Homo sapiens: one gene and its partners. The gene in region 3 interacts genetically with the main gene of each other region. Each region holds a gene or a part of one and is shown on either strand. Other genes may lie near its edges. The genes, in order: SCYL1, RTF1, VPS4A, COPE, SEC22B, BNIP1 and PSMD1.

Region 1 (3,500 bases), on a different chromosome or scaffold from region 3:
AGTTCCTGAGCGCTGAGGAGTATCAGCAGAAGATCATCCCTGTGGTGGTCAAGATGTTCTCATCCACTGACCGGGCCATGCGCATCCGCCTCCTGCAGCAGGTGAGGCCTCTGTACCAGACTCTGTGGTGGTCCACCCAGACCCCAACCTGGTGGCTGGGGAGGCACCTGCCCTGGCTGCACAGGGACCCCAGAAACCCCACCCCTGAACATACACACAACTGAGGGACCCAATGAGGCCAGGCTCTCAGAAAGTTGGCCACATACAGGGCTCCTTGGCAGTTTTGGGAATGGCCAGCTTGCCCAGGCTGCAGCGCTCTAATGCCCCCTCCTCTCCTGGCTCAGTCACTCTGGCCCTCTAGAGTGGGGATACAGTCTTTCTCCTGCAACCCCAGGGCAGCTGGGAGCATCAGACAAGATGGATGGGATCTAGGAAGTACCAGTGGCTCCCAGTGCCATTCCCTCTGTGACCACCAAACACACCAGTCCTCCTCGTGGCACTGTGGGCAGGTGGGGAGGAGCAGGGAAGGGGTGATACCCTCATTTATAGAAGAGGCTCAGGCTGGGCGCAGTGGCTCATGCCTGTAATCCCAGCACTTTGGGAGGGCCGAGGCAGGCAGATCACCTGAGGTCAGGAGTTTAAGACCAGCCTGGCCAACTTGGCGAAACCCCGTCTCTACTAAAAATACAAAAATTAGCCAGGTGCGGTGGTGGGTGCCTGTAATCCCAGCTGCTCAGGAGGCTGAGGCAGGAGAATTGCTTGAACCTGGGAGGCAGAGGTTTCAGTGAGCTGAGATTGCGCCACTGCACTCCAGCCTCGGTGACAGAGCAAGACTCTGTCTCAGAAAAAAAAAAAAAAAAAAAATAGAAGAGGCTCTGAGAGGGTGGCCAGATGAGCCGGACTATGAGCCAGGCCTTCCTAGCGCCCTCCTGGCCTTTCCTCACTCCTCCACCTGGGCCTGAGGCCAAACACCTGGGTGGTGGCTCAGGAGGTTGACCTGGCTGGCCAGTGCCTGCTGGGTGGAAAAGCTAAGCCAGGAGCGGTTCCATGGCTATGGGGATAGAGTGGGAAGGGCTGACCATGTTGACGCATCCCAACCTGGGCCACAGATGGAGCAGTTCATCCAGTACCTTGACGAGCCAACAGTCAACACCCAGATCTTCCCCCACGTCGTACATGGCTTCCTGGACACCAACCCTGCCATCCGGGAGCAGACGGTCAAGGTGGGTGTGGCCAGGCCCAGAGTGGCTACCCCTGGTTTTCCAAGGCTTGGAGGGGCTCACCCTAGACACAGAGGCCTTGGCTTTGGCCCATGGGTCCAAGCAGACACTGTCCTTGCTGTGTGGGTTCAGGCCGTGGGTGCAGCTCGGCAGCTGGCGGGGGAGCACGTCCTCCATTCAGCAGACAACGAGCATCTGCCTGTTCCTGGCCCAAGCCCCATGCTGGGAGGCAGCATGCATGAGGTGCCCAGCCCCCTGCACTCATGGAGCTTCCTTTCCAGGGCACAGAGGGTGGGCTTGCCAGACAATACAACAGAATTAGAAAATATGTATTGTTGGCTGGTCACGGTGGCTCACGCCCATAATCCCTGCACTTTGGGAGGCTGAGGCAAGCGGATCACCTGAGGTCAGGAGTTCGAGACCAGCCTGACCAACATGGCGAAGCCCTGTCTCTACTAAAAAGTACAAAACCATCTGGGGATGGTGGCGCATGCCTGTAATCCCAGCTACTCGGGAGGCTGAGGCAGGAGACTCAATTGAACCTGGGAGGCAGAGGTTGCAGTGAGCCGAGATCATGCCGTTGCACTCCAGCATGGGCAACAAGAGGGAAACTCTGTTTCAAAAAAAGAAAGAAAATATGCATTGTTGGAAAGTGTGGGGAGAAGAGTTTGTGGTTTTAAAAACAGTGGTCAGGGGCTGGGCGCAGTGGCTTACGCCTGTGATCCCAGCACTTTGGTAGGCCGAGGTGGGAGGATCGCTTGAGCCCAGGAGTTGGAGACCAGCCTGGTCATCATGGCCAAACCCCATCTCTACAAAAAAATACAAAAGTTAGGCGCGTATGGTGATGCACGCCTATAGTCCCAGCTACTCGGGAGGCTGAGGCAGGTAGGTAGCTTGAGCCCAGGAGGTTGAGGCTGCATTGAGCTGTGATCGTGACACTGCATTCCAGCCTGGGCAACAGAGTGAGACCTCATCTCAAAATTTAAGAAATTATTTTAGGCCGGGCCTGGTGGCCCATGCCTGTAATCCCAGCACTTTGGGAGGCCGAGGCGGGTGGATCACCTGAGGCGATGGGAGTTTGAGACCAGCCTGGCCAACATGGTAAAACATGGTAAAACCCCATCTCTACTAAAAATACAAAAAATGGCTGGGCCCGGTTGCTCACACCTGTAATCCCAGACTTTGGGAGGCTGAGGTGGGCGGATCACAAGGGCAGGAGATCAAGACCATCCTGGCTAACATGGTGAAACCCCGTCTCTACTAAAAGTACAAAAACAATCTAGCCGGGCATGGTGGTGGGCGCCTGTGGTCCCAGCTACTTGGGAGGCTGAGGCAGGAGAATGGTGTGAACCTCGGAGATGGAGCTTGCAGTGAGCCGATATCGCGCCACTGCACTCCAGCCTGGGCAACAGAGCAAGACTCCGTCTCAAAAAAATAAAATAAAATAAAAATTAAAAAAATTAGCCAGGCATGGTGGTGGGCGCCTGTAATCCTAGCCACTCAGGAGGCTGAGGCAGGAGAATTGCTTGAACCCAGGAGGCAGAGGTTGCAGTGAGTAGAGATCACACCACTGCACTCCAGCCTGGGTGACAGAGTGAGACTCTATCTCAGAAACAAAAAAGATACGGAGACGAGAGTGGCTCTGAGGCTTGTGGCCTGAGCAACTGGAAGGTTAGGAGTTGCTATTTACTGAGATGACACAAGCATGTTGGGCCCCATCTTGGCTGTTTCTGTTAGGCAGCTGGATGGAGATGTCGAGTTGGCCACTGGTTATGCATGTGTGAAATTTAGGGAAGTCTGGGCTAGGGGTATGTGCCTGGGGGTTGTCAGCTCACAAGATGGCATTGAAAGCCATGAAATGGCTGAGATCACCTAGGGCAAGAGTGTTAGATAGAAAAGAGCCCTCTAGATTGGCTCCGGGTGTGTGAACGTTAGAGTCTCAGCAAAAGGAGCAGCCAGCCAGGTCAGAGGAGAACCAGGAGGGGGTGGTGTCCTGGAAGACCAGAGACCAAAGTTTCAGGGAGGGAAAACTCAGGGGTGTCAGAACTGCTGAGGGTCAAGTTTGGTGAGGATGGAGAACTGGCTGTTGAAATTAGTACCGGGGAGGGCATCAGTGACCTCACCCTGAGCCAGTTTGGCAGAGTGTGGGGCTGTTTGTGTGAGTCTAGGTGGAGTGCCATCAGGAGAGCAGAGCAGAGGAAATGGGAAACAGGAGTGCAGACAGACTTTGGAGGTTTTGCTGTAAAGGGGGACAGAAATGGGGTCCCTTTCTTCAACATG
Region 2 (3,500 bases), on a different chromosome or scaffold from region 3:
GTGAGCCAAGAGCGTGCCACTGCACTCCAGCCTGGGCAACGGGGTAAGACTCTGTCTCCAAAAATAAAAAACAAAAAATTAAAAATAAGGCCGGGCTCAGTGGCTCATGTCAATAATCCCAGCACTTTGGGAGGCCGAGACAGGTGGATCACCTGAGGTCAGGAGTTCAAGACCAGCCTGGCCAACATGGTGAAACCCCATCTCTACTAAAAATACAAACAGTAGCCAGGCACGGTGGCGGGTGCCTGTAACACTAGCTACTCGGGAGGCTGAGGCAGGGGAATTACTTGAACCCAGGAGGCGGAGGTTGCAGTGAGCCAAGATCGTGCCATTGCACTCCAGCCTGGGCGACAAAAGCGAAACTCTGTCTGAAAAAAAAAAACAACAAATAAATAAAAATAAAAATAGGCCAGGTGCGGTGGCTCACGCCAGCACTTTGGGAGGCTGAGGCAGGTGGATCACAAGGTCAAGAGTTCAAGACCAGCCTCGCCAACATGGTGAAACCCCGTCTCTACTAAAAATACAAAAATTAGCCAGGTGTGGTGGCATGCGCCTGTAGTCCCAGCTACTTGGGAGGCTGAGGCGGGAGAATCACTTGAACCCGGGAGGCGGAGGTTGCAGTGAGCCAAGACCACGCCATTGCACTCCAGCCTGGGTGACAGAATGAGACTCCGTCTCAAAAAATAAAAATAAAAAAATAATAATAATGGTAAAATAAAATATAAATAAATAAATAAATAAATCCCAAAGTGTTGGGATTACAGGAGTAAGCCACTGTGCCCAGTCCACCTAGACCACAGAAGCAGTGCTGGAACCTACATAATAACCTGTATTAGTCTGGAGGGTTTTTTTTAACCTCAATACAATTCCCTGGTGTAGAAGTCACTTGGTATGCAACATGAAACTTTTCATTCATTGGTTTTTCAAATGAACAAATCTTTTAGATTATGTAACTCCCAATGAACACTTCATAGATGCCTCCCTTCTCCCTTTTATACTGAAGGGAGAATAGAGAAAATTATTCTACATCCAAATCTTCCAGGCCCTTGGGCTCCAAGTCCTCCTCTTGGCAACAAGTCATGAAGGATTCCTGGGCACCTCACTGCTCTATGGGGATCCCACTTGGAGTCTACTTTCCATCAAATGCTGAGAGAAGAGTGATCGATTTTTTCAGTAGCTCCTGCCCTCAGTTGAGACTAATTATACTGAAAGCATGGACAATTGTCCAAGGGAAGAAATACCAACCCGGTAAACTGGTTTGCTGTTGTGGTTTCCGATGCCAATCCGCACAAAACATCCTGTGACAGTTTTAGCAAAGAAGGGCATGTGACACCAGCGTTCTAGCTTATGCCGTGATAATCGAACCCGATTCAATTCTTCAGGTAAGGAAACTGGTTGGGATTTGGGAGGGATCTCTTCTTTCCTAAGAGGAACAAAGGGGCACTGGAAAAAATGTTCATCATAAAAACAGAACAAGACAGAAAAATAATATCAACTCCTCAAAACTTAACCAAAGTACATGTGACTGGCCTAGGAGGAGAAGTAAATGAAGCACCAGCAAAGACTTGTAATAGGATCCTGTTCCTGACCAGTAGTATGAGCTGTTTCAAATGAGGCTGCCATCTTAGATAACCCATCAGAGTAAGAAAATGAATGAGCCTGTAATCCCAGCACTTTGGGAGGCCGAGGCGGGCGGATCACGAGGTCAGGAGATCGAGACCATCCCGGCTAAAACAGTGAAACCCTGTCTCTATTAAAAATACAAAAAATTAGCCGGGCGTAGTGGCGGGCGCCTATAGTCCCAGCTACTTGGGAGGCTGAGGCAAGAGAATGGCGTGAACCCGGGAGGCGGAGCTTGCAGTGAGCCGAGATCCTGCCACTGCACTCCAGCCTGGGCGACAGAGCGAGACTCCGTCTCAAAAAAAAAAAAAAAAAAAAAAAAAAGAAAATGAATGAAAGCTCCAGGCCAATCTGAGAATGACACGAAGTCAGTTCCTACCTTCCAGGCCCAGGTGAAATGTCTAAGCGTACAGGCTAGCAGCCAAATGAATGGGCTGACGTGCTGGGGAACTCAGTTCAGCAAACCAAAGGTAACCATGTCAGAGTTAGTGGCCCAACCAGGGAGATTTTGGAAACGATACCAAGCTCTTCCTCAAAAACCCACCTATCCTGCCTACTAGACCAAAATGTACAAGAGCTTACTCCTCTTCTTCATCAGACGATGATGTTCGTGATGAGCGGTCTGACTTTTCACTGGATTTGTCATCCTCTTCCTCCTCTTCATCATCAGAGTAGACCTCACTGGTTTTTAATGGCTGTTTTTTGGCAAGGAGCTCAGCTAGAAAGAAAGAAGAGATGTTTACCTAGGTTTTCTCAACAAGAAAATGAATTCATCCTTGAAAAAGAACTGGAAATGGAAGAGGACTCAAATACACAGCTCCGTCCTCTCTAGACTGGATTGTGCTAACTTGGGGTATATACAGAAATGAGTTAAAACACAGAGTTAAAATTATTCAGGTGCCAAATGTCAGGCCCCAGCAGATGAAAAAAGGGCTGGAAGATTGATACTAGGTGGGCAGAAAGGGTCACCAACACTACTGACAGTTCTCTTTTATGGCACTCAAGACACTTGACTATGGGGAGGAAAGAGGGGGAAAGACTCATGATGACTTCAGAAGCTTCTGAGGAAAATTTAAAATAGGAGAGTGGCTAAATCACCACTGGTACATCTACCAATGAACTACTATGCAGCTATAAAAAAGGAACGTGGGGACGGGTGCGGTGGCTTACGCCTGTAATCTCAGCACTTTGGGAGGCAGAGGCAGGTGGATCACTTGAGGTCAGGAGTTCGAGACCAGCTTGGTCAACATGGTGAAACTCTGTCTCTACTAAAATACAAAAATTAGCCAGGCATTGTGGCCGGCACCTGTTATCCCAGCTACTTGGGAGGCTGAGGCAGGAGAATCGCTTGAACCCGGGAGGCGGAGGTTGCAGTGAGCCAAGACTGTATACCACTGCACTCCAGCCTGGGCAACAGAGCGAGACTCCATCTCAAAAAAAAAAAAAGGAACGTGGCCAGGCATGGTGACTCATGCCTGTAATCCCAGCACTTTGGGAGGTCGAGGTGGGTAGATCACTTGAGCTCAGGGGTTTGGGACCAGCCTGGGCAACATGGTGAATCTGCATCTCTACCAAAAATACAAAAAACAAACCAGGAGTGGTGGCTAAAAAAAAAAGAGAGAGAAAACTGTGTATAATATGCTACCATTAATCTAAGATGGCAGGTTAATCTGTGTACTTACGATTTAAAAAGAAAAAAGAATAATATAAAAAAATTTTAGGCTGGGAGTGTTGGCTCATGCACTTTGGGAGGCCAAGGCAAGGCGGATCACTTAAGGTCAGGAGTTCAAGACCACCCTGGCCAACATGGCTAAACCCCATCTCTACTAAAAATACAAAACAAAATTAGGTGGTGGTGCACGCATGTAGTCTCAGCTACT
Region 3 (3,045 bases):
GCCCTGTCTGGCTGTTGACATGGGGAGTGCCTGGATTTGCCCCAATCAACCTCCCACCTTCACCATTGCCCAAGTGAAGCAGCTTTTAACTCTCTTGCCCAAAGTCCTCTGAGAATTTCTTCACTTTCAGGAGGTCGTCTGCATTCACCGTGGGCCGGGTGGTGGCCAGAGACCGCAGCATGTCCGACTGTGAAGGCAACAGTATGTGCCTGAGCAGGAGCCAGGCTCCAGGTCCCCAACCTCCCCTCAGCACACAACAGGCGCAGCTGAGGGTGGGAAGAGGTTTGCCTTCAAGGCCACCCCAGAGGCCTGCTTGAATCTGCCTATGGCAGGGACCCTCTTCCCTCTCGAGGCAGCTCAGATGGGCCTCCTCCTGGTCTGAGAATCTAAGCTCCATCATCTCATAACTCCCCTTACGAACTTGCTTTCTTTTTTTTTTTTTTTTTTTTTGGAGACGGAGTCTGTCACCCAGGCTGGAGTGCAGTGGCATGATCTCGGCTCACCGCAACCTCCACCTCCTCGGTTCAAGTGACTCTCCTGCCTCAGCCTCCCAAATAGCTGGGACTACAGGCACGTGCCACCACACATGGCTGATTTTTGTATTTTTAGCAGAGACGGGGTTTCACTATGTTGGCCAGGCTGCTCTTGAACTCCTGACCTCAGGCGATCTGCCCGCCTCGGCCTCCCGAAGTGCTGGGATTACAGGCGGGAGCCACGGCGCCCGGCCAGGAGCCTTCTTAGCTGCACACCCCCAACACCAGCCACAAGGGCAGACCCTTGCCAGGATGGCACGGGCCAGGCTATGCAGGTGAGGCGCTGCCTTTGCAACTGCGTCACAGTCTTGACACATTCACTGCCTCACTGCACCGCAAAGCCAAACCCATGGATTGACGTCATATTATCTGGACCTGACTTTACTTGCTAAAGAATATAAAATGCAGGCTAGGTGTGGTGGCTCAGCTCATGCTTGTAATCCCAGCACTTTGGGAGGCCACGCTGAGAGGATCACTTGAGCCCAGCAGTTTCAGACTGGCCTGGGCAACACTGTGAGGCCGTTTCTAAAAAAAAAAGGAAAAATTAGCTGGGCATGATGGTGTGTGCCTGTTGCTACTCAGGAGGCTGAGGTCAGAAGATTGTGTGAGCTCGTGAGGTCAAGCCTGCAGTGAGCTATCACTGCACCACTGCATCTAGCCTTTCTCTGTATGTACAAAATGCTAATGCTGCCACCTGCATTCTGGGCCCCCAGTGAGTGTAATGCCAGCTTCCCTGAGCTACAAAGGCCATTCTCAACAGCCCAGGACATAGAAGAAGACTATTTTTTATTTTTGAGACGGAGTCTCACTCTGTCACCCAGGCTGGAGTGCAGTGGCCCAATCTCTGCTCACTGCAACCTCTGCCTCCCGGCTTCAAGCGATCCTTCTGCCTCAGCCTCCTGAGTAGCTGGGACTACAAGTGCACACCACCACACCCGGCTAATTTTTGTATTTTTAGTAGAGACAGGGTTTCTCCATATTGGCTAGGCTGGTCTCGAACTCCTAACCTTGTGATCTGCCCACCCTGGCCTCCCAAAGTGCTGGGATTACAGGCGTGAGCTACCATGCCTGGCCTGGAGAAGACCGTTTTTATTCTGGACCCAAACCCTCAATTTTCTGGGCTCTGTGCAGCCCTCTTCCCTCCCCTGTCAAGTCACTTACCATGCAAACCACAGGCTCTAAGAGTTTGTCCCCAGGGACATCCATCCAAGTCATCTCCATGGCTCCTGGGTCCCCTGGTGAGCATGGAGTCAGGAGGTCATCAATCATCATGCTGGGGTTGGTGCGAGAGGGGCCACAGACCTGAAACCAAATGGATCTGACTGGGGCAGCTGCCCCTCAGTGTCAGAGGGGCTCGACCCCTCCGGTCTCTAAGGAAGTCCCAAAGAGAATGCTCTGTGGGTCCCTAGCATCTGAGGAGGACGGGCTCCTTCAGAACTCGGGCTGGGTGGTCCGAGCGACTCATGATTTGCATGGGACTCTGGCAATCTGTAGCCCCAATGCCTTGATGTCTTCCTCATTAACACTGTCACGTCTCACCAGGAATACAGTGACATTAAAAGTGTGATATGGTTTAGCTGTGCCCCCACCCACATTTCAACTTGAACTGTATCTATCTCCCAGAATTCCCACATGTTGTGGGAGGGACCCAGGGGGAGGTAACTGAATCATGGGGGCTGGTCTTTCCCGTGCTATTCTCGTGATGGTGAAGTCTCACGAGATCTGATGGGTTTATCAGGGGTTTCCACTTTTGTTTCTTCATTTTCTCTTGCCACCAGCATGTAAGAAGTGCCTTTGGTCTCCTACCATGATTCTGAGGCCTCCCTAGCCATGTGGAACTGTAAGGCCAATTAAACCTCTTTTTCTTCCCAGTCTCGGGTATGTCTTTATCAGCAGCATGAAAATAGATTAACACAAAGTGGTTTTCCAACTGAAGTCCGCTGCCTTGGCAAAACATTCCCCCAATGTCCACAAGGCTCATTCCCTCACACCTTCACCTCCTGTCTCAGGCATCACCCCAGTGCCATCTGCCCTTCCCTCCATGCCCGAGACACCTCTCTCCTAACCCTGCTCCATCTCCATCCTCTGAGACACTCACTGACTGTGTTGACTGTCTCCCCACCAACAACGGAAGGTCTAGGATTTTTGTCTGTTGGTCACTCATATCTTCCCAGCACTTAGGACAGGGCCGGGCACACAGGAGGACCCACAGCAAATACTCAGCAGAGATCTGCTGAATGAATAGACAGGTCTTCCTGGTCATTTTATATCCAACACTTTCCAAACACTGATTTGGTGTCCACCCCGCACAAGAGCACACAGTGCTGACGGAGGAGGCCGCAGCAGGGTTAAGACAGTAAAGTGGCCCTGTCCTCTGCTTTCACACACCCTGAGATGGCCACACTCCAGAAGAGCTGCAGGGAGGGGACAGTGGGTGCAGCCCCCATGGCACTGGCCCTCGGCTCTCCAGGAGGCCTCAGAGACTGTGTCACCTGAGCAGCCGGGGAGCAGG
Region 4 (3,500 bases), on a different chromosome or scaffold from region 3:
GGCTGCTTCTCCAGATGGGCGGTGAGTGGGCCGGGGCCTGAAACCCCATCCTGGGTACCTCCCCCAGAGCTCCTGGGCCTGAGGAAGCTGAGCGGTGAAATGTGGGAGTGAGGGTGTCCTCCTCTGCTGGGCGGGGCTGGTGGTCCTAAGCACAGGACTTAGGAACATCCCAGACACACACAGTGAGCCCTGGGTGTGGAGCGGCCATGCAATGTGTCTGTGGCGACCCGCTGACCGCCCCCTCGCCCTGTCCTGCAGCACAGCCATGACAGTGCAGATCCTGCTGAAGCTGGACCGCCTGGACCTCGCCCGGTGAGCCCTCCTGCCCCTCTCCACCCGCACTGAGCCACAGCCCAGAGCGTCACAGCCCAGAGCGTCACAGCCCAGAGCGTCTGTGGTGCTGTCATTACTCTTGTTGTCTTTCCTTTCCATGGGGGTGGCTTGCTGTCGTTCAGCCCTTCCCTGCAGTATGTTGCCAGGGAGGAGGGCCATGGCTCTCTGTGCCTCAGTTTCTCTCTATGCAGTGGGTGGCAGGCCTCTCCCACAGGGTGAGGGTGGGCTTCATGGAGGGAGAGTGGAGGTTGTGCCTGGAGCAACATGTTACTTGACCAGCTTGTAACTGTGCCGTGGGGCTGGCGGGGCCTGCACGTGGCATCACCAGGTCGGAGGCCATGGCTGGGGGTCCAGGACTCCCCTGCTGCCGTTTCCAAAGCCCTTGCCTCAGAGTTGTTCACACTGTAGTTCCGTTGCCCTTCCCTGCGTTCCATCCTCCATGGAGTGAGTCTCTCCTGAGCTCTACCTTGTGGTGGCCACCCTGGGGGGCCATAGCTGGCCCCAGTCCCACCTTCCCAGGGCCTGCACGTGGTCAGACGGGCAGGGTGGCTCGGGCACTTAGTCGTGGGGTATGAGCATGCAGTGGAGCACAAAGCAGGGGCCATCCCCAGGCTCCGGTGGGCCCCAAGTGGGGACAAGGCAGGGATGGCCAGGCCAGGGCCCTCGGCCACTCAGCCCCTCTGTCATCTGTCCCCGCCCCAGGAAGGAGCTGAAGAGAATGCAGGACCTGGACGAGGATGCCACCCTCACCCAGCTCGCCACTGCCTGGGTCAGCCTGGCCACGGTGAGCCCTAGGCCATGAGGTGGGTGGGCATTGCGGGCACCTGGCTGAGCAGGGTCTGTGGGCACCCCCACCTGTGCGTAGGCTGCTGGCCACTCCAGTGGGGCTCCAGGATCAGGCCGTGGCCCCTGCCAGCCTGGCATAACTCAGCCTTGACTCCATTCCGGGCTTCTCACAGCCAAGCGACTTGGCCAGAGCCAGAGCGAAGAGATGGTGGGGGCGGGGACGGGTTCCTGAGCCTGAGGCACAGGGGTACTCGAGGGTCTGGGTTGGCCTGGCAGGCCCTCCTCCCCTCAGGGCTTCCTGGGGTTTTCTGCGACTCAGCTTTGCTCTCCAGGGTCCTGGTCGCCAGCCAGGGACGGAGTTCAGTGTTCCCATAGCAGCGGTGGAGATGTCCTCAGCTCCCAGGCCTGGGCACCTCCGCCCGGCAACAGCCCCTCTCCTGGTTTCTGGGACTTGGCCCCCTTCTGAGCCACTCTTTTGTGTGGGCCTATTAAAATGTGCTTCCTGGCTGGTCGCAGTGGCTCACGCCTGTAATCCCAGCACTTCGGGAGGCCGAGGCGGGTGGATCATGTGAGGTTGGGAGTTCTAGACCAGCCTGACCAACATGGAGAAACCCCATCTTTACCAAAAATACAAAATTAGCTGGGCTTGGTGCCATGCACCTGTAAACCCAGCTACTCAGGAGGCTGAGGCAGGAGAATCGCTTGAACCCGGGAGGTGGAGGTTGCGGTGAGCCAAGATCGCGCCAGTGCACTCCTGCCTGAGCAACAAGAGTGAAACTCTGAGAAAGAAAAAAAAATGTGCTCCCCGTCCCTGCCCGCCACGGGGCTGAAGCCTCACCCAGACAGACTTCCAGTGACCGTCTAGTATGGTAGGACAGGCCCCGGCAGACCTATCGGGTAGTTTGGGCTGTTTTCACTGCCTGCCTTGGCCTCAGGCTCCCCCTGCAAGTGTTCTGCTGTTCTGAGCAAGTGGACAGGTCAGGGCTGCTGGTCACAGAGCTGACTCCTCCTCCTCTGACGTGCTCAGTGACCCAGTGGTCCCCACTCAGACCCTGAGCCAGCCACCTGTGCACTGAGGCCTTGGAAGCCCCAGATTCCACCTCTGTGTACTCAGCACTCCGGGAGCTGGGTGGGAGGTGGGGCAGGAGGCGGCCACGAGTCTTTAGGCCCCATCAGCAGAGTACAAGTTACGGGTAGTCCCCATGGCGGAGTGGCTGTGCCTTGAACCGGGCACACCAGATTCGTCTCTGTGCAGTGCTGGAGTCCCCCCCGCTAGGGGAGGGGGCTGGCGGGGGAAGGGCCGGGCAGCAGGGGCACAGGCAATGATGCGGGACCCTCCCTGCAGGGTGGTGAGAAGCTGCAGGATGCCTACTACATCTTCCAGGAGATGGCTGACAAGTGCTCGCCCACCCTGCTGCTGCTCAATGGGCAGGCGGCCTGCCACATGGCCCAGGGCCGCTGGGAGGCCGCTGAGGGCCTGCTGCAGGAGGCGCTAGACAAGGTAGGCACAAGCCTGTCCCAGAGTGGGGACGGAGGGAAGGCCAGGCGGCCAGAGGGTGGGGTCAGGGCGGACAGAAACAAGTGTAGCAGAGACCCCCTGGGTGTGCGTGTGGCCCCACAGGGCTTCTAAGGCCCAGTCAGCAGCGAGATCCACAAAGCAGGGATCTCACCTGCAAAGAAATCCAGATTCCGGCCTCACAGAAATGGGGCATCTGGGCAGCCTGGGCCTCAGTGGTCTGAGCCGTCCTTGTTGTCACCTCAGCTGCCTGGCCCGGGACCTGCAAGTGGGACCCCTCACCTGAGTACATACTCAGTATTGGAGAGACACTCCCCGTACTTATGTAGGGGAGAGTGTGCTGTGGACAGGAGCTCTTCGTTGAGAGAGCGCTGCCTGCCCAGGGTGGCTGCAGTCATCTCCTGCCTGATGTCTGCAGTCTTTTCTTCCTTCCTTCCTTCCTTCCTTCCTTCCTTCCTTCCTTCCTTCCTTCCTTCCTTCTTTCCCTTCCTTCCTTCCTTCCTTTCCTTCCTTTCCTTCCTTTCCTTCCTTTCCTTTCCTTCCTTTCCTTCCTTTCCTTCCTTTCCTTTCTTCTTTTTTTTTTTTTTTGAGATGGAGTCTCACTCTGTCACCCAGGCTGCAGTGCAGTGGTGTGATCTCAGCTCAATGCAACCTCCGCCTCCTGGGTTCAAGTGATTCTTTTGCCTCAGCCTCCCAAGTAGCTGGGATTACAGGCGGCTGCCACCACGCCTGGCTAATTTTTGTATTTTTAGTAGAGACGGGGTTTTGCCATGTTGGTCAGGCTGGTCTCAAACTCCTGACCTCAGGTGATCCACCCGCCTCAGCCTCCCAAAGTGCTGGGATTATAGGCGTGAGCCACCACGCC
Region 5 (3,500 bases), on a different chromosome or scaffold from region 3:
ATCTATGTAGTTAATTAAAGTTAAAGTTTTTGCAGATCAACTACTCAAACTACTAAATACATTTACCTGAGAAAAAGTCTCTGAGAGCACTTCATTCCTGTTTTAGTTCGTGTAAATTCTCTGAGAATGTTCTGGAGATAGATAACTCATTTACAGTGGTTTCTATTAACTAATTAAAGTACCCATGATTTTTTCCTTTTCTGCTCAGGGATGATGGAGATTTCCTTTTACCTTCTGAGGTAGAATTTTTTAATGGGGAAAATAGGCCTTTTAAATATTATTGCCAGGGTCTGCAATATAACTTAAAATTCCTGTACATACTGCAAATATTTCTTTAAATTGCACAGGAAAATGAGCGAACTTTTTATTTCTTAATATCTTTGGCAAAAAACTTTAACCAGTAAGCAATTTTATAACCCTGAGGGATCATCAAAGATACTATCCTGATTCCTGGTAAGGAAAAATATATTATTTCCTTATAACAAGGCAAGGAGAAATGCTATTTTATTCCTGATAATTTATATAACTAGAATAATTTTTTTCCTTTCTTTTATGGACCTAAATCTGCCAATTGGGAATTTTGTGCATGAAATATGAAGTTACTTTTTATAGATAATCAGTGCTTTTAAGTCCCTAAAAGGCTCCTGCTGAAGTAATGATGATGTTAATAATAAAAGCCTTTGAAAGGCTGAAAACCTACATAGTGGTACCATAGTATTTGGAGCTTCTATAGGAGTGGAGAGGGGCAGCTCATTGTTGAGAGTTGCATGCTGCAACCTAATGGTCAGCAATGAAATAAATACTTGTAGAATGTTCACTTCAGTGTGAAGTTTTGTTATCTAGTTAATTTATATACATATATCCTTTGTAGATACATTTCTATCTAATCTTGTTGGGCTAATTAAGAAATAAGGGGTGGGGTAATTGTCAACAAAGGGAGAAGAAAGTGGTTTAAGATCAGGGCAGCAGAAAAATTAGAGAACAAGAATATCATAATATGGCTCCTGGTTTTCTTTATAAGAGGCAGTGGGAAGATCTGACTAGATGAAATGTATCATCAACCAAACTGGCATCTAAAATAGAATGGGATAAATACTGTATGGGGTTATTGGAGGCATATTAAGAAAGGACACCTAATTTATTTTGGGAAGAAGTATGTTAAGAGAAGACTTTCTAGAGAAGGAGAATGGGGCATTCTAGGAAGAGTCAATGGCATGTGCAAAGGCATGAATAAAGACAGTGAGGCATATTTTGGAAATGTAACAGCTTGATTCAGCTTAGCCCATAGGGTAAGCATAGACAACAGAGGAGACTTGAGGAATGAGAACTAGATGGGTACACTATCATAAAGGGACTTGTCTATCATGCTGAGGAGTTTAGACCATCTTAATGGTAGTGGCCAAGGATGGCATCAGATTTATAGTTTCAAGTGATCATAATATTGGCATAAAAGATATATTAGGGAGGAAGCCTGAAGTAGGGAGATGAAAATAAGGAGCCATCAAAGGCAGAATGAAACTTAGGCAGATTTCAAGTGATTTTCAAAAATGTTGTGATCAGAGGTACCAGATAATAACTATTACATAACACTTTCTTTGTTAGGAGCTTATTTCTCACACTGACCAAAGCTTTTGAAGTAAGTACTCTTTACACCACTATATAAATAAACCTTACAAAGGATTCTGCTTTGAGGCATGAGAGAGTTAAGTCATTTGCCCAAAGTCACAGAGTTAGAAAGTAATAGAGCTAAGATTTGAACCTAGGCAGTTTGGCTCCAGAGTCTGTGCTCTTACGCTATATTACCACCAAGAGGTCAAATAAATACCAAAGAATGTATTTTCGAATTTAACAATGAGGAACTTAATCATACAGGCAGAAGTAATTCCAGAGCACTGGAGACAGAAGCCAGATTGCCATATGGGTTAAAGAGTGTGTAAACCACTAGGAAGTAAAGACATAGAACTACTCTCACAAGTGCTTTTCTGGTTATTGTGACGCTGAACTTCATGGCTTGTTTTAATTAAGACATCTTACAAGTGTCAAAATTTGGAAATATTTGGACACTGTACACTCTGGTTATTTAAATATCTAACAATGGTTCTTGAGCATTTTGAGAAACCTTTGAAAATCTGATGAAAGGTATGTGCCATTACTCTAGAAAAATGTTCCTGTGTACATGCACATCAAGTATCACATACTGTTTCAGGCTGTTCAAAGACTACAAAGTCTGTTCATGACCTAATGGTCCATGTTCCCTCAGTTAAGAGCTCCAGAGATAAAGGATGTGGAACTCAAAGGTAAGTACCCAGAGCCTTGAAAACTCCATCTGTGACTTGGAAGAATTCTACAATTTGAATTAACTTTGTGGAGAGAGATATATTTTTGAAAAATTGTGTGTACCAAAAAAATTTCATATCAAATAATATTTTCCTGTAGTGCATTCAAGGATCTGGTTCCACAGCAAAAAATTGTTTTGGTCTCAGTTCCTCAAAATCACATTTAAGGAGCTTGAGATTTATATTTTCTACTTAATAAGTCTTACAAAAGCAAGTTAAGAAGGAAAATGGACAATCATTTCTGCACATATAGGGTTTAATAAAACATGTATAATAAAATATCTCATATTTTAAATTTCCACCTTATTGGTAGCTTTCATGACAAAGGGCTAGGGTGCTGATGGCCATACAATTAAGGTTTTTGGTTAGTTAGTTAGCAGAACTAACTGACTCCTACCTGGTGGGTTTTTCTTTTGTTTGGTTGGTTGGTTGGTTGGTTTTTTCCCAGATGGCTCAGGAGGAAGGTAAATAGCAGTCATTGTATGTGTGACAGAGTTTGAGATAGAATGAGCATATTGAATCTCACATCCTATTCTTATTACTGTCAGGCAGCGTTGACCTAGCAGTATAAAACTATCTGAAGCAATGTAGTCACTCAGTTCTCATAAAGTTTATTTCAAGTACTGTAACAATTCATGTTTGGATTAGAAAAGTCACTAGAAATTTGACTTCCATATAGTAATCTATACTTTTTTCTCTCATTTCCTTCATTTTTTGAGCCGTAAGTGTAAGGCATTTTGCTGGTATTATTACAATGGTTATGAGGAGTTTCTTTGCTTGCCCAAGGTCACATAGCTAGCAAGTTAAAGTAGATTCAAATCCAGGCCTGCTAGATACCAAATTATTATTTAAGAGTACTTTTCACTACTCCTAAATAATGACACAGATACGTTTGTCTTACACATTTCACTTTATTGTCAAGTTATTAGTATGTTTATTTTCAAAAGTTATTTTTTGCAATTTCTTTTTATTATTCCGTACTTTTTAAATTTACTTCATTATCACGTCTTCCTTTATTCTTTTTAAATAGTTTTTGCTTTTGTTATTTTGTTTTCCCTTTTTTACTCTTGGTTTGTAATACCTCTTTCCTTATTTGCTCCTTTCTCATTTGATCTCAATGTTAATCCAACTGTTTTCCACATCTGATTCACTAAAATTTTAGCC
Region 6 (3,500 bases), on a different chromosome or scaffold from region 3:
ATCTTCGCTCCTCCGCCTCCTGGGTAGCTGGAACCACAGGCATGCGCCACCACCATGCCTGGCTAATTTTTTGTATTTTTAGTAGAGACGGGGTTTCTCCATGTTGCCCAGGCTGGTCTTGAACTCCTGGGCTCAAGTGATCCCCCCACCTCGGCCTCCTAAAGTGCTATGATTACAGGTGTGAACCACTGTGCCTGGCCACGATTTTTTATTTCCTACAAAGTATATTAACTCAGCAGCTGAAGGGCCAGAAATGGTTGTTCAAGATACTGGAGATGAGTAAGTCATGGTTCTCCGGGGATGGTACCAATTAATACACAGGCCATAGCAGTACAGCCTTAGAGGCAACTGGACTGAAGAGGGGCCTTGTGTGACCAGCTGGGAAGTTTGGATGCCTCCCTGAAGTCCAGCCATTGTGGAGCTGTGCACAGAGGAGTGCCATGTTCACAGCCCCTTGGGCTGACGGGGGCAGAGTGACAGCAACAGAGCCTCCCCGTGGCGACCTCCAGGGTCCGGTCAAGGGGTATCAGGACCTGAGCAAGAACAGTTGCTGGGGAACCAGGAGGCGGAAGTGGCAGGAGGTGGGATGGGCTCTGAAGGCCGTGCCTGGTGGCCTTCTCCCGTGTGCCTTTGTTGGGGGGAAGTGCTGTGAATTGAACTGACTTATGGCTTGGTGGAGTGGACACACTCACACGTGAACCTTCCAATTCCAGCAATCAGGCCTCATGGAGGAAAGCTAATCTCACCTGCAAAATTGCAATCGACAATCTAGAGAAAGCAGAACTTCTTCAGGGAGGAGATCTCTTAAGGCAAAGGTACCTATTCTTTTATTTTTCTGGGCTCCGATAATAATAGATAACAATTGGCAAGGTGTAGGAAACCCCCTCTTGTTTTCAGCTTGGTGCTTAATTTAATTACATAAGTAATTTTTTTAAGTTTGAAAAAAATGCATACTTATTTGTAGTAAATTGGTAAAATAAAGTATGAATTACAAAATTAAAATATTGAATTTTTTTTTTTTTCTGAGATGAAGTCTCACTCTTGTAGCCCAGGCTGGAGTGCAGTGGTGCCCTCTTGGCTCACCGCAACCTCCGCCTCCTGGGTTCAAGTGATTCTCCTGCCTCAGCCTCCAAAGTATCTGGGATTACAGTTGCGTGCCACTGCACCCAGCTAATTTTTTGTATTTTTAGTAGAGACGGGGTTTAACCACGTTGGCCAGGCTGGTCTTGAACTCCTGACTTCTGGTGATCCACCCACCCCAGCCTCCCAAAGTGCTAGGATTATAGGCGTGAGCCACCATGCCCGGCCGAAAATATCAAATCTTATTACTCATGAACATTTTGGTATATTCTCTCCCTCATTTTTATTTCTACATTTCTTACAAAGTCAAAATTGTACCATACATAAAATTTCATATTCTGCTGTTTCAGCACAAAAGTTGTTCATTAAAAAAAAAAAAAAAGCTTTTTAAGCCTAATTCTAACAGTACATAGTATGTAGATTGTATGTTAATACAATTCCCTGTGTGTGTTTGCATTTCTAGTGTTTAAGTAGTGTAAGTAATACACCAGGGCATGTCTTAGAACATAAGGCTTTATCCACATTTTGGATGTTTCCTTTGGAGGGATTTCCAGGGATGAGATGATTGAGTCAAAGGAATGAACATTACCAAGGCTCTTCAATTGGCAAATTGCTTTACAGAAGGCAGCACTGGTTTATGTTCCTACTAGCAGTCCACAGGGGCGTGGGTCTCAGCACACCCTTTCCAGCATTGAATGTGATCATTTAAAATATGTATACTAATTGGATAGGTAAAACATGAGATCTCATTTGGATGTGGGGCCTTCTTGCAGGGAGGCTTTTGTTGACATTCCTCCCCTTTCTCTTCCTCTGAACTTTTAGGAAAACCACCAAAGAGAGCCTGGCCCAGACATCCAGTACCATCACTGAGAGCCTCATGGGGATCAGCAGGATGATGGCCCAGCAGGTCCAGCAGAGCGAGGAGGCCATGCAGTCTCTAGGTAAAGCTGGGCCTGGAGTAGGAAGCTTCTCCCAGAGACGCTGCTCTAGGGCCCTTGCCCTGGCACCTCCACTCTGGGCTCCTCCACCACAGCCCACACGATGTTCACTGACTTGGGTGGCTTCTCCCTCATGAGATGACTTGACACCATGGTCTTATCCAGTGTGGGATGTGCTGCTCCTATTTCTCTTTTTTTTTTTTGAGATGGAGTTTCGCTCTTGTTGCCCAGGTTGGAGTGCAATGGTGCGATCTCAGCTCACCGCAACCTCTGCCTCCTGGTTTCAAGCGATTCTCCTGCCTTAGCCTCCCAAGTAGCTGGGATTACCGGCCTGCACCACCACACCCGGCTAATTTTGTATTTTTAGTAGAGACGGGGTTTCTCCATGTTGGTCAGGCTGGTCTTGAACTCCCAACCTCAGGTGATCCGCCTGCCTCAGCCTCCCAAAGTGCTGGGATTATAGGCGTGAGATGCCACGCCCGGCCCGTATTTCTGTTTACTAGAAGACCCCACACCCCCATCGATGTTTCCTCAGGGGGAGCATTCCCATGTGTTCATGTGAAAGGCAGAGGTCCCAGCCCCTCTCCTAGAGAGGGTGTCGGCAGGGCTGGGTGAGGGGCCTGGAGTCTGATTTTCAGTGAGGGCTCTGGGGACCCATATGGCCAGGCAAGTTTGGGAATGGTTGCTCCAAGAGATGTTTGGCGAATCAGCTGCTGGTAGGACTGCTAGGACCTCAGTTTACAATTATACTCCCCAACGTTATTTTTCCTATGAGTTCCTTTTAAAAGATGTGAATCAGAGGCTACAGGAGAGACTGCTTGAGACCATCTGGTTTCCTCCAATAGTTTTCCCAGAGTGTCTCCTCTGTGATGGAGAAGAGTATCAGCCCTCTCCAGGGTCCTTCAGTATAAGACAACAGAAAAAGGGCGTTTACTCCTTGAAACGCTTTTGGAAAATTGCACACGTGGACAAAAGGAGAAAGCATGGTATCCTGAATCCCCTGAGCCCTGAGTCCATTACCCCAGCCAGTCTCGTTTCAGTTCTACCCTCAGCCCATCCCCCATCTGGATTATTTTGAAGCAAATCCCAGACATCATCCATAAATATCTCAGTACATCTCTCTAAAAGATAAGGGACTCTTTGGGGAAAAAGCAGAAGCAACCCCATAACTACAATACCATGATCACCCCTAGAAATTATAATTTTGGACCACTGTTTTTTCAGTGCACCAAATAGGCAGAAGCAAAAGGAAAGCAAGCAGGTGACCCCAAGGTCACTCCTTGAGTTTGCAGCTTACCTGAACATCTGGGCTCGGAACCAGCCAGGGGCTTCCTCTCAGCGTGTGCTGTGGGAGAGGCCTTGGAGAGAGAGGGAGCAAGGCGACAACTTGGCCTCTGAGCCCAGGGCTTTTATGCTCTGGTGTGGCGACAGCATACCCCCCGCTAACAGTGGGAAGGAAACACAAATGCTGGTGGCTTCTGG
Region 7 (3,500 bases), on a different chromosome or scaffold from region 3:
AAAAAGCTATTTTGTTGTAACACATTCTTTCTTTGTATTCTTTTTTCATTTTGAAAATCCAATAATTTAAGGAAATTTTTAGAAATAACGAAGGTTTTTTAAAAAGCTAGAAGATTAAAACAGTGCCTATGCTATACTATATCATTCTAAAGAGAATTCAAAGTGTATAAATTATATATGGTTTCATTACCCATACACACCAAAACATTTGGGTATCTTTTCTTTATCTCTTTCTATATATAAATTTGCTTGCACATAAAAAAAAATTCAGATGGTACAGAAAATATATAAAATGAAAAGTAAGGCTTCTCTTTCCCATCATTTGGGCTTTTTCCCAAAGGTAAGACATAGATGTTTTTCCCTACTTATTCACACATGTGGATCTACTGCATTCTTTTAATGACTGTATTGTATTTTATTGACTGGAGGTGTGCATGGGTTTACTTTTTAACAATTGCTATGTTGTATACATTTTTTGTATTCTGCTCAGGGCATAGCATTTTATTGCACATTTTATTGTTTCTTCATTAAAATGTGCTCCTGTGTATTTTAATCCTCTAGACTTTGAAAATTTAGATTAAAACACTGTTTTTTACAATCCCTTTTAAAGCAAGTTTGAAACAAAATACTAGAAGAAAAAATATCCATGTTTAAATCACCCAAAGTCAACTTACTATTCTAACTTGATTTTTTACATCACCCAAAGTCAATTTAGTATTTAATAGTGTATTTCCTTTCAGTTTTCTCTACATAGGTTTTCGGAGTTTTGTTGTTTGTAAATATTTTTCATAGTTTTTTTTAAAACTGACATGAAAAATAGTAGTTCCCTGCCCTCTTCCTGTCTGTATTTCAGTTTTATTCCTTAGAGGCAATTTTATTTCTTTCAGCTGTTTTATTCCTTATCTTTTTATTATTTTTAAAAACTTTATTGCTCATTTTTAAAATAATATATTTTTGAGCAGATAATATGTTCATGTGATTTAAAATTCAAAAAGAATGATGGGGTATACAATGAAGTCTTCCTATTACTTGGCTCCAGCTACCAAGTTCTTTTCTCTGTGGATAAACAGTGTTAATTGTATACAGTCTTTAACATTTTTCCATGTTCTAATTCTTCATAGAGTCCTCTTACTTGATTGTTGTAATCATTCAGTGTATGTACTTTGCCCTACTTAATCATTCCCCTATTGTTGACCACTTATTTTGTTTGTGTTATTTCGTGTTCTTAATTTATAATAACTTTGATTAATGTGTTTATTTTGAAGTTGAGTTACTTGCTGCCTAAGGGAACAAGAAAATTTAAATTGAGTTTTTAAAAGAAAAATTCTAACTTTGTTGGATAATTTTGTTAAAACAATGGCAGATCATAAGAGTAGTAAGAGAAATGCTTCAAAATGGTAATTTTAATGTCTCTTGTCCTGGCCCAACACAACACAATGTATGTTAAATGAATGAGTAACTTCCATAATATATGGTAAGGGAGAAAATAACAAATTAAGGAGCACTTAGGTATAACTTATGGATAAGATTTAAAGAAGCCAAGATTCATTCAACAACCAATGTTGAATACTGCTGATTACCAGGCACAGCATTAAGAGTTATAAATATAATTTGTATGAATTTTTTTATGGAAGACAGATGCCATGTTTAGAAAAATTTCATCTAGTGCTGGGTTTAGAAATAGAGTGCTAGACTGGATAGTCTGCCCTAGTTTGCCTGTGCTTATATTTTAAGGTTTTCTATAATGTTGATTTTGTCTCCTTAAGTACCTTGTAGATGAAGTTTTTAATTATTGAATAATTGTTCTTTATCTCCATTTCAGTGCTTAATTTTCTTAGATGATCCTCAGGCTGTGAGTGATATCTTAGAGAAACTGGTAAAGGAAGACAACCTCCTGATGGCATATCAGATTTGTTTTGATTTGTATGAAAGTGCTAGCCAGCAGTTTTTGTCATCTGTAATCCAGAATCTTCGAACTGTTGGCACCCCTATTGCTTCTGTGCCTGGATCCACTAATACGGGTACTGTTCCGGGATCAGAGAAAGACAGGTATAAGTACCTTTTTCTGCATCAAAACTAATTGAATAATCTTTATTTCATTTTGGGGACAGGTAGAATATTTATAGGAAGCATATTCTAAGAATAAATTTTGCCACTAGCTTTCATAGATTGTAAAGTCTTATTAGGCTGTTGCTCTGTTTTGTACTGTGCTGGGTGTAGTAAGGAAAACCGAAGAAATTGACCCTTCTGGAAAGAAATAGAAGTGATTATCTCGTAGGGAGGGCCTACCAGACAACATGTGTACTATTTAATCAAGTAAATTTAAAAAAACAGGTGGGGATAGGTTGGGGCTACCTTTTAGATATTTGGGTTAGATATATCTGGGTTAGATATTTAGAAAGTAAAGAACATTCTCAGCTTTTTATGCTTTTATTAGAACTAAATACACAAATTTCTATAGTATTAGAAATTTGCATTCTGTACAAATTGATATGGTATTAAAATTTTATTTTTCTGTATTTTACACGTTTAGATCACTTACTAAAAACATTTGTGTGTCTTAGTTGTGCCTGTATATGCCGGCAGCCCCCTAGCCCGCTCTTTCACTGGATATCTGTGTCTGAGAAATGTGGGACTCTCTCTTTCACTTAAGCACTCAGAGGCCATTGTAGGGTTATTAATTGGCCTAATTTCAATATTGTTGTGTCTCAGGGAATAGGGAGTCCCAAGGAGAAGGAGAGAGATGGGGGAATGACCGGTGTGTGGAGCAGTCAGAACACACACATTTATTGATTGAGTTTGCTGTTTTATATGGGTGTGGTTCGTGGTGTCCCAAAACAACTACAATGGTAACATCAAAGATCACTGATGACAGATTACCATAACAGATATAACGATAATTAAAAAGTTTTAAATATTGCAAGGATAACTAAAATGTAACACAAGGACAAAGTGATCACATACTATTGGAGAAGTGGCTCCAATAGACTTCCTTGAAGGGCAGTAAAACAAAGGTATGCCTATATTTTTCTTTATATCACTACCTCTTTCCTTATTACTAAAACTATGCTAAGTCTTGCAGTCAGGTATTGTAAGACCTACAATTTTGATTCTTTTTTCTTTTTCAAGATTCTTTGGGCTATTGTAGATTTTTTGCATTATATAAGTCTGTGGGTGTTCTGATTGGGATTGTATTGAATATCTTCAATTTGGGGCACATTGAAATCCCGATAATATTGAATCTTGTAATCCAGGAATATGGTGATCTTTTTCATTTACTTAGGTTTTTTATTTTTTTCTCAGTAGTGTTTTGTAGATTCAGTGCAGAGGTTTTACACATCTTTTCTTAAATTAATGTTCTTATATCCCTAAGTATAATTTGTTTTTTGATGCTGTTGTGAAGTGGTATTTTTAAATTTCTATTTTTTTTGTTGGTAGTATATAGAAATATAATTGATTTTTATATACTAACATTGAATCCTATGACCTTGATAAAATCA

What was found.
Region 1: changes in VPS4A (region 3) and SCYL1 together harm fitness more than expected from each alone (negative genetic interaction), as found in Homo sapiens cells (one large-scale study listed by BioGRID).
Region 2: changes in VPS4A (region 3) and RTF1 together harm fitness more than expected from each alone (negative genetic interaction), as found in Homo sapiens cells (one large-scale study listed by BioGRID).
Region 4: changes in VPS4A (region 3) and COPE together harm fitness more than expected from each alone (negative genetic interaction), as found in Homo sapiens cells (one large-scale study listed by BioGRID).
Region 5: changes in VPS4A (region 3) and SEC22B together harm fitness more than expected from each alone (negative genetic interaction), as found in Homo sapiens cells (one large-scale study listed by BioGRID).
Region 6: changes in VPS4A (region 3) and BNIP1 together harm fitness more than expected from each alone (negative genetic interaction), as found in Homo sapiens cells (one large-scale study listed by BioGRID).
Region 7: changes in VPS4A (region 3) and PSMD1 together harm fitness more than expected from each alone (negative genetic interaction), as found in Homo sapiens cells (one large-scale study listed by BioGRID).

Annotation. Positions count from the first base shown.
Region 1 is NC_000011.10:65,531,583-65,535,082, forward strand, and holds part of SCYL1 (N-terminal kinase-like protein), read left to right. Parts: coding exon 1-101; intron 102-1,109; coding exon 1,110-1,223; intron 1,224-3,500. UniProt on the Homo sapiens protein: Regulates COPI-mediated retrograde protein traffic at the interface between the Golgi apparatus and the endoplasmic reticulum. Involved in the maintenance of the Golgi apparatus morphology.
Region 2 is NC_000015.10:41,469,095-41,472,594, reverse strand, and holds part of RTF1 (RNA polymerase-associated protein RTF1 homolog), read right to left. Parts: intron 2,339-3,500; coding exon 2,203-2,338; intron 1,424-2,202; coding exon 1,246-1,423; intron 1-1,245. UniProt on the Homo sapiens protein: Component of the PAF1 complex (PAF1C) which has multiple functions during transcription by RNA polymerase II and is implicated in regulation of development and maintenance of embryonic stem cell pluripotency.
Region 3 is NC_000016.10:69,321,350-69,324,394, reverse strand, and holds part of VPS4A (vacuolar protein sorting-associated protein 4A), read right to left. Parts: intron 1,836-3,045; coding exon 1,695-1,835; intron 188-1,694; coding exon 86-187; 3' UTR 1-85. UniProt on the Homo sapiens protein: Involved in late steps of the endosomal multivesicular bodies (MVB) pathway. Recognizes membrane-associated ESCRT-III assemblies and catalyzes their disassembly, possibly in combination with membrane fission.
Region 4 is NC_000019.10:18,902,388-18,905,887, reverse strand, and holds part of COPE (coatomer subunit epsilon), read left to right. Parts: coding exon of another isoform or gene 1-21; intron 22-258; coding exon 259-312; intron 313-1,035; coding exon 1,036-1,117; intron 1,118-2,464; coding exon 2,465-2,620; intron 2,621-3,500. UniProt on the Homo sapiens protein: The coatomer is a cytosolic protein complex that binds to dilysine motifs and reversibly associates with Golgi non-clathrin-coated vesicles, which further mediate biosynthetic protein transport from the ER, via the Golgi up to the trans Golgi network.
Region 5 is NC_000001.11:120,152,521-120,156,020, reverse strand, and holds part of SEC22B (vesicle-trafficking protein SEC22b), read left to right. Parts: 3' UTR 1-3,500. UniProt on the Homo sapiens protein: SNARE involved in targeting and fusion of ER-derived transport vesicles with the Golgi complex as well as Golgi-derived retrograde transport vesicles with the ER.
Region 6 is NC_000005.10:173,158,031-173,161,530, forward strand, and holds part of BNIP1 (vesicle transport protein SEC20), read left to right. Parts: intron 1-713; coding exon 714-815; intron 816-1,902; coding exon 1,903-2,021; intron 2,022-3,500. UniProt on the Homo sapiens protein: As part of a SNARE complex may be involved in endoplasmic reticulum membranes fusion and be required for the maintenance of endoplasmic reticulum organization. Also plays a role in apoptosis.
Region 7 is NC_000002.12:231,070,367-231,073,866, forward strand, and holds part of PSMD1 (26S proteasome non-ATPase regulatory subunit 1), read left to right. Parts: intron 1-1,822; coding exon 1,823-2,049; intron 2,050-3,500. UniProt on the Homo sapiens protein: Component of the 26S proteasome, a multiprotein complex involved in the ATP-dependent degradation of ubiquitinated proteins.